Linked DNA regions of Homo sapiens. The protein of the gene in region 1 purifies or fractionates together with the protein of each later gene. This does not show direct contact. Each region holds a gene or a part of one and is shown in the gene's direction. Other genes may lie near its edges.

Region 1 (3,500 bases):
ATAAATACATATAATATTTTCAAAATCTCTTTAAAATAAATTGGAAAGATGACAATTCACCTCTATAGACCTAAATAAAGTATGTCACAGAAATGAAGACATTCTTCCAGCTACAGTATAATTATTGTATCTAAGGAAACGAACTGCAATGCCCTCATGTCGTTTAACATCCAGTCTATATTTGAATTTCCCACTGTTTAATGGAAATGTCTTTTATAGTGCTCCCTTTTAAAACAGAATGGAAACAAGTTGTGAGCTGATCTGTTCTTTATAATCATAGGTTTCCCATTCAGCAATTACTTATAATCCACTGGGTGATAATTCCTAACAGAAGAAGTCATATTCCATGACAAATTTTCACATATGATTGTGTAAACATCACTAATACTTTTGTATTTAATGGTTATTTATTATTGTATTTATTATTTTTTGGAGTTTTTAGATAATCATTTTCAATTTTAAAACCTTATTTAACTATTCTTACGTGACATTTTACTATGAAAAAAAATCCTTCACCAAATCAAAATGAAGAACAAATATTCCTCAAAGACAAAGTTTAATACTTGCCTCTAAATATCAATTTCCTAAGAGATTACTATAATAACCACCAATGGTGGAGGCAAATTATTTTGTTCTTTCTTGCTCTCTGATTATCTCACTCATTACTCTGGACTTGGACATTTTTCCTTAAGATTTTTAATTAATTTTATTAATTTTTGTTAGTGCTCATTCTTACCCAATGGGTAGATTTTTTTCTTGATGCTGAAATCTATCCAAACATCACCAGTGACATTTCTTTGAAAGTAGTGCTTTTGTCTTTCAGACTTGCACTCACGAGTCCTTGACCAAATTCTTGCTTTCTGGCACAATCTGAAGCCCAAAGGCTCTAAGAATCTTACTGTATCCCAGATATGGAACTTGTTACATCTCCTTCTAGTTGTCAAAGGTCTTTGGAAGCCAGGATCTGATTCATAGATGAGCTTCTGTTCAGAAATGGCATTTCCATTTATACTTTTAGAAGATATATAAAATTTATTTCTATGAAAAAGGTTATTACTTGACAATAATATCCTCAGCTCAAATATAATGCTATACTGATTATTATTCAGCTTCCTTACTTTCATCTTTTCAATATTAACATAACTATTTCATATAAATTGATGCTTCTCTCTTTTGGTCAACTGCAGGTAGAATGTCATCCGTATTTCAACCGGAGTAAATTGCTAGATTTCTGCAAGTCGAAAGATATTGTTCTGGTTGCCTATAGTGCTCTGGGATCTCAACGAGACAAACGATGGTAATAAAAACAATGGGACCTTTACATAAACCTTCATTTTGCAGAAAATTTTTTAGTCAGAGCATCCTCAGTTTCCTGTAGTTAAGTTTCAAGTGGCTCATGGAGAGGAAAGAGAATTGCATTTCTGACGAGATCTTGGATGATGCTGATGGTGATGCTCGGGGGCCTCGCTTGAGAAGCTCCGGTGCAGAGTGGATGCCTTAGTCTGTTTAGGGAGCCGCCTAACAAACTATCGCCAGCCTCAGGGCCTCAGCCTTTCTGCCTTTCCTTCCAGGGTGGACCCGAACTCCCCGGTGCTCTTGGAGGACCCAGTCCTTTGTGCCTTGGCAAAAAAGCACAAGCGAACCCCAGCCCTGATTGCCCTGCGCTACCAGCTGCAGCGTGGGGTTGTGGTCCTGGCCAAGAGCTACAATGAGCAGCGCATCAGACAGAACGTGCAGGTGAGGAGCGGGGCTGTGGGCCTCAGGTCTCCTGCACAGTGTCCTTCACACGTGTGCTTCTTGTAAGGCTCTCAGGACAGCCTTGGGCCAGCTCCATTTCCCTGTATTTCCCATATGAATGCTTTGCGTGCATCCTGAGGGTTTCTTCTACTCTACCACGGGAGAGGCAGCACAGGTGCAGAGAATTAAGATGGGACCAAAAATGGAGATTTTTTTATTTCAGCATTAAGTTGACAATCTACTCTGCATCCCTGCACCAGGAACATCATTTTTTCATGTTGTTTGTTTGGTTTTGGTTTTTTTTTTTTGAGACAGAGTCTCATTCTGTCTCCCAGATGGGATGATTCTCCTGCCTCAGCCTCCTGAGTAGCTGGGATTACAGGTGCCTACCACCAAGCCCGGCTAATTTTTGTAATTTTTAATAGAGAAGGTATTTCACCATGTTGGCCAGGCTAGTTCCAAACTCCTGACCTCAGGCAACCCACCTGCTGTGGCCTCCCAAAGTGGTACTACAGGTGTGAGCCACCGCTCCTGGCCTCCTCTTCATCTTCAGAAATGTGGAGTAGCATTAGGTGTTCTTTAGTCTACCAGTCATTGTGGATTTTTCATTTCCATTTCTTCGTACGCTCAGTTAAAATTTCACATATTTATTCACTTGGAGTTTTCTGTTTGTGTACTGCCTGTTTAAGTCTTTCTTTGACTCTTAGTTGCTTGTCTTTTTTTTAAGTATAGGAGACCATAATTATACTATTAAATAGAGCTGTTAAACAAATCACCCTCAACATAGGGGTTTAAGATGAAAACCACTGATTTACTCAGGATTCTCTAGTTAGAAAATTAGCATGGCCTCAGCCTGAACTTAGTCAAGTTCTGTTCTTGGCTGGGCTCTCTCATGTGTTTGCAGGACAACGAGATAGCTCTGCTTCAAGATGTCAATGGGACATTTGTCTGGGTGCCATTTTCTCCTCCATATAGTTCATCCTGCAGCCATCCAGCCCAGACTTCACCTCAGCACATGGCATGACCCCAAGGCAGTGAGTGGACACATGCAAAGCCTTTTCATGTCTAGGCTCAGGGCTGCCACGCCATTGCTTCTGGCAAATATTACCCACATTACAGGACAGGCCAGACTCAAGGGATGGGTAAACAGACACCACCACTTATTGGAAAGAGCTAGAAATTCATATAACCAAGCAAGTGGATACAGGGACATGTGAGTGTTGGAGGAAGTGTTTCTTATTAATCTATGATGGATTAATATATGATAGGTTAATATATATGATAGATTGATATATATATTATAGTTTAATAAGATATATGAGATAGATTACACATACATACATATATATATTCTGGGTATTAATCGTTTAGAGATTTAGATGTATTATTGAAGTACCACCTCCCAAATTGCATATGTGCTGTGGTTTTCTCTGTAGTTATGTATTCATGAACAAAAGTTGCTACTTTTCATGTAGTTAAATTATTCATGCCTCTTTCCTGTGGTTGATGAGTGGCATGTCTTTTCTTATATTGGGAACATGACAATCTTTTAATATGTTATCTTGCAAAATTGGTAATTCTCTTTACTTATAAATTAGTTGTAAATTCAAATGAATTTCTTTTTCAATACTAAGTAAAATAAAAACCCAAATATGCACATGGAATTTCTAAATTGATATCAAAAGGTGCCACCAACAATTATTGAAAAGCATTCACATTTGCTCACATATCTTGATTTTTTACTCTACCATAAATGAAACATT
Region 2 (3,500 bases), on another chromosome or scaffold:
GCTAAAGTCTCACCACGGCCCCAGTGGGGTCAACAGCATTTAAATCCTTCAGTTTATAGCAGGGTAAACAGAGGCACTTGAGTGGCCCAAGGTTATACAGTGAGAGGGACAGAGCTGGGCTTGGTTGTTGTTGCTGGTGGTGGTGGTGGTGGTTTTTTTCCTCCACACAACACACATGTGCACAGCTGGGCTTTGAACCCAGGCCTGAATGTCCCCAGAGCTCTTAACCCCCTGGAGGTCCTGCCAGTCCATGCAGAGGCCGAGGCTGGACCATGGGAGGCCTTTGACGAAGCACAGCCATTAAGCCCAGCTGGTACACAGGTGATGGGCTTTGACGCCAGCCTTGTCTCCTCCCACTACAGGCCCGGTACCCCCAGTTCATCAGCAGGGTGAGAGGACGAGGCACCTTTTGCTCCTTCGATACTCCCGATGATTCCATACGGAATAAGCTCATTTTAATTGCCAGAAACAAAGGTAAGGGGTCAGGAGTGGCTGCTGAGTTTCATGAGCATCCAGTATCTCCTGCTGTAGCTGCCACATGTTGCTAGGTACTCAGCAATATTTTGTGTGGGGGGCAGGTGGTACACAGGTCTGAAAAGAGCCTGAATGCTCTTTCTCCAAAGAAGAGAACATTACAAATGGGATTTCTTTATCCATTTATTTACTCAACAAGCGTTCGCTGAGGAGGTGAGTTGTAAGTGGACACTGGAGACAGTTACAGTGATGATGAAGACCATCAGAGCCCCTTCCTTCAGGAAGCATGCAGTGTAGCAGGAAGGCATGGCTTTACACATGGCATTTCACAACCAATCCATTGCAATTTTAAGTCCTGGGAAGGAGAAAACGCAGCTAAGAGAGCAGATAGCTGCAGCAGTTGGTGAGGGTAGGAAATCAGGGCAGGCTCCCTTGAGGAAGTAGCATTTTACCCTAAGTCTTGACAAACAGGGATTGGCTGGGTGAAGAAGGTAAGGAAGAGCATTCTGGGCGGAGGGAAGGGTGCATGCGATGGCCTGAGGTGGGATGGAGCTTACAGAGGTGGTAAAAGGGAAAGAAGGGGGCGTGAAGGCGAACGGTTGGGAGGGGATGAAGCTGGGGGAGGAGAGGCCAGGCCCGGGTCGCATGGGCCTGCAGATCAGGCTTAGCACTCCAGACTTCATCCTAGGAGCTGTGGGAAGCCACTGAGGACATGTGTGGCAGGGGTAAGGGCAGACGCTGTGGTGAGATCAGAGCACGTACTCTATGTCAGGCACATTGTCAGTTCTTCTTGTGCCATCTTACAGAATCCTTGCAGCAGCCTCAGAAGGGCAGGGATAATCAACCTCCATTTTAAAAATGAGAAAACGTGGTCTCAAAGGCATAAACAGGCCGGGTGCAGTAGCTCACGCCTGTAATCCCAGCACTTTGGGAGGCCGACGTGGGCAGATCAGCTGAAGTCAGGAGTTCGAGACCAGCCTGGCCAACGGGGCAAAACCTCATCTCTACTGAAAATACAAAAATTAGCTGGCCGTGGTGGCGGCACCTGTGATCCCAGCTACTTGGGAGACTGAGGCAGGAGAATGGCTTGAACCTGGGAGGTGGAGGTTGCAGTGAGTGAGACTGGGTTGCCACTGCACCCCAGCCTGGGTGACAGCGCGAGACTCCATCTCTAAAAAAAAAAAAAAAAAAGGCATAAACAACCTCGACAAGGAAAGGACACCAGCTGTAACTGTGAAGTCACCCTTTAAAATAAGCAGAGCCTGTCCCTCCTCCGTAATAGCTCAGCACCTCACACATGCTTCCGACTCAGCCTGTGCTTTTGCAACTTATTTGCTTACCTATTTTCTTTTCCCACTCCTCCATGACTTTGTGGAAGGCAAGGACTTTATCTCAGGATTTCTCTATCACCAGACCTAGCTTGGGGCAGCAAAGCAGGCACTCAAAGGAGAGAGGGAGGGAGGAAGGGAAAAAGGAAGTGTGGAGGGAAGGAAAGGAAGAAGAGAATGATGGAGGAGATGAATGAGGGGAGAGAGAAAGGAAATGAAGACTGGATGGGTGGGTGGTAGGAAGGAAGCCCGGGCTTCCATGATGGAGGATGATGGATGGATGGATGGATGGATGGATGAGCGTTGCCAACAGGCATCACTTTCCCCCCAGCTCTCCCAGCATGTGACTTTGAGAAACCACGCTCCTCACCTACCTCCTGCCTCTTTCAGGTGTGGTGTTGGGTGGCTGTGGTGACAAATCCATTCGTTTCCGTCCCACGCTGGTCTTCAGGGATCACCACGCTCACCTGTTCCTCAATATTTTCAGTGACATCTTAGCAGACTTCAAGTAAAGAAGCCATTTCCACTACAGTGAGAAAGCCCGGATCCCAACAGTTGTCAAATTGATTAGTTTGCCTAATTCATGTTTTCACTTAAAAGTATCAGAGGTGAATGCACAGTGAAGGGTGATTTGTGGGGAGGGAGCATTTTTGGTGGTCTTGGGGGAGGGGAGGGGAGGGAAGGGCTGGTGTTGATTTTCCTCCCTGCAGAGCCAATGGTGCACATTGGTTTAAGCCCAGAGATCCTGCTTGAGCCCTGGACTCATCTTGGGAAGGGCCATGGGAGGTCCTGGCTAGAGTTCTGCCCAACCTTGACCAACCCCAGCAATTTTTCCAAAAGCCAGTCAAGGGCATTACATTTGTTCCTGGGACTGGCAGCTGGGCCTCCTGGGTGCCAGTCCATCTCAAGTGCCATATTCTGTGATCACGGATGTTGGCTCCCCCTCGCCCTATGCAAGCAAACACACTCTCACCTCCTCTCCCAGCCTCCCGGAGCTCTGAGCACGCCCCACGCATGGTGCAGGAGGGACTGGACAGATCTGAGGAAGGCCGTAAAATGGGGACAGGAGGATTCAGCTCAGGAGTAAGGGAAGAGGTCCTCTGGCCCCCTGAAGATGAGAATCACCCCTCTCAGTGCACCTGGGGATCCCCCTAAACTGTGAATTCTGCCCTGGACAGGGCTTTGCCCTTGGAGGATCCCCAGGTGGCCTTACCCGTGATTCTTACTCGGCATCCTCCATTCCCCAAACTCCCTCCTCCCTGTTAAATGTCAACCTAGACCTGGACCTGGGTGGGAGGAAACTGTAGCCTGAGTGTCCACAGGGACACACGTGAGCCACAGGGCTAGAAGCACAGGCCCGTCACCCCAGGAGGAAAAGCCCAGGGTCTGGGGCAGCAGAGCCATCGCATCATGTTTCCCAGGGCAACTTGAGGTCTGACTTTTGGCTCCCTCGCCCTAAGAGGCTCTTCCTCTCTTTTGCTCATCCACCTTCACACCACTTGTGAGCTGACCCCCAGGAACAGCTTGGCTGTTCCACCAGAGCAGAGGGAATCATTGCTGGACTGGATTTCTTCTGGAGGGAAGCACCATGAATTAAAGGTGCCAGAGCTCCATGCATGGAAAAGTGGCCTGTTGGTTCAACGTGGTTTCCTTGTACTTGATCCTCCTGAAATGAGAGATTTTCCTGAGATGACTGAG

The links.
Region 2: the proteins of AKR1C3 (region 1) and ABAT fractionate together in Homo sapiens (co-fractionation; one large-scale study listed by BioGRID). This does not show direct contact.

Annotation. Positions count from the first base shown.
Region 1 is NC_000010.11:5,100,914-5,104,413, forward strand, and holds part of AKR1C3 (aldo-keto reductase family 1 member C3), read left to right. Parts: intron 1-1,187; coding exon 1,188-1,297; intron 1,298-1,571; coding exon 1,572-1,737; intron 1,738-3,500. UniProt on the Homo sapiens protein: Cytosolic aldo-keto reductase that catalyzes the NADH and NADPH-dependent reduction of ketosteroids to hydroxysteroids.
Region 2 is NC_000016.10:8,779,117-8,782,616, forward strand, and holds part of ABAT (4-aminobutyrate aminotransferase, mitochondrial isoform 1 precursor), read left to right. Parts: intron 1-362; coding exon 363-474; intron 475-2,133; coding exon of another isoform or gene 2,134-2,192; coding exon 2,193-2,314; 3' UTR 2,315-3,500. UniProt on the Homo sapiens protein: Catalyzes the conversion of gamma-aminobutyrate and L-beta-aminoisobutyrate to succinate semialdehyde and methylmalonate semialdehyde, respectively. Can also convert delta-aminovalerate and beta-alanine.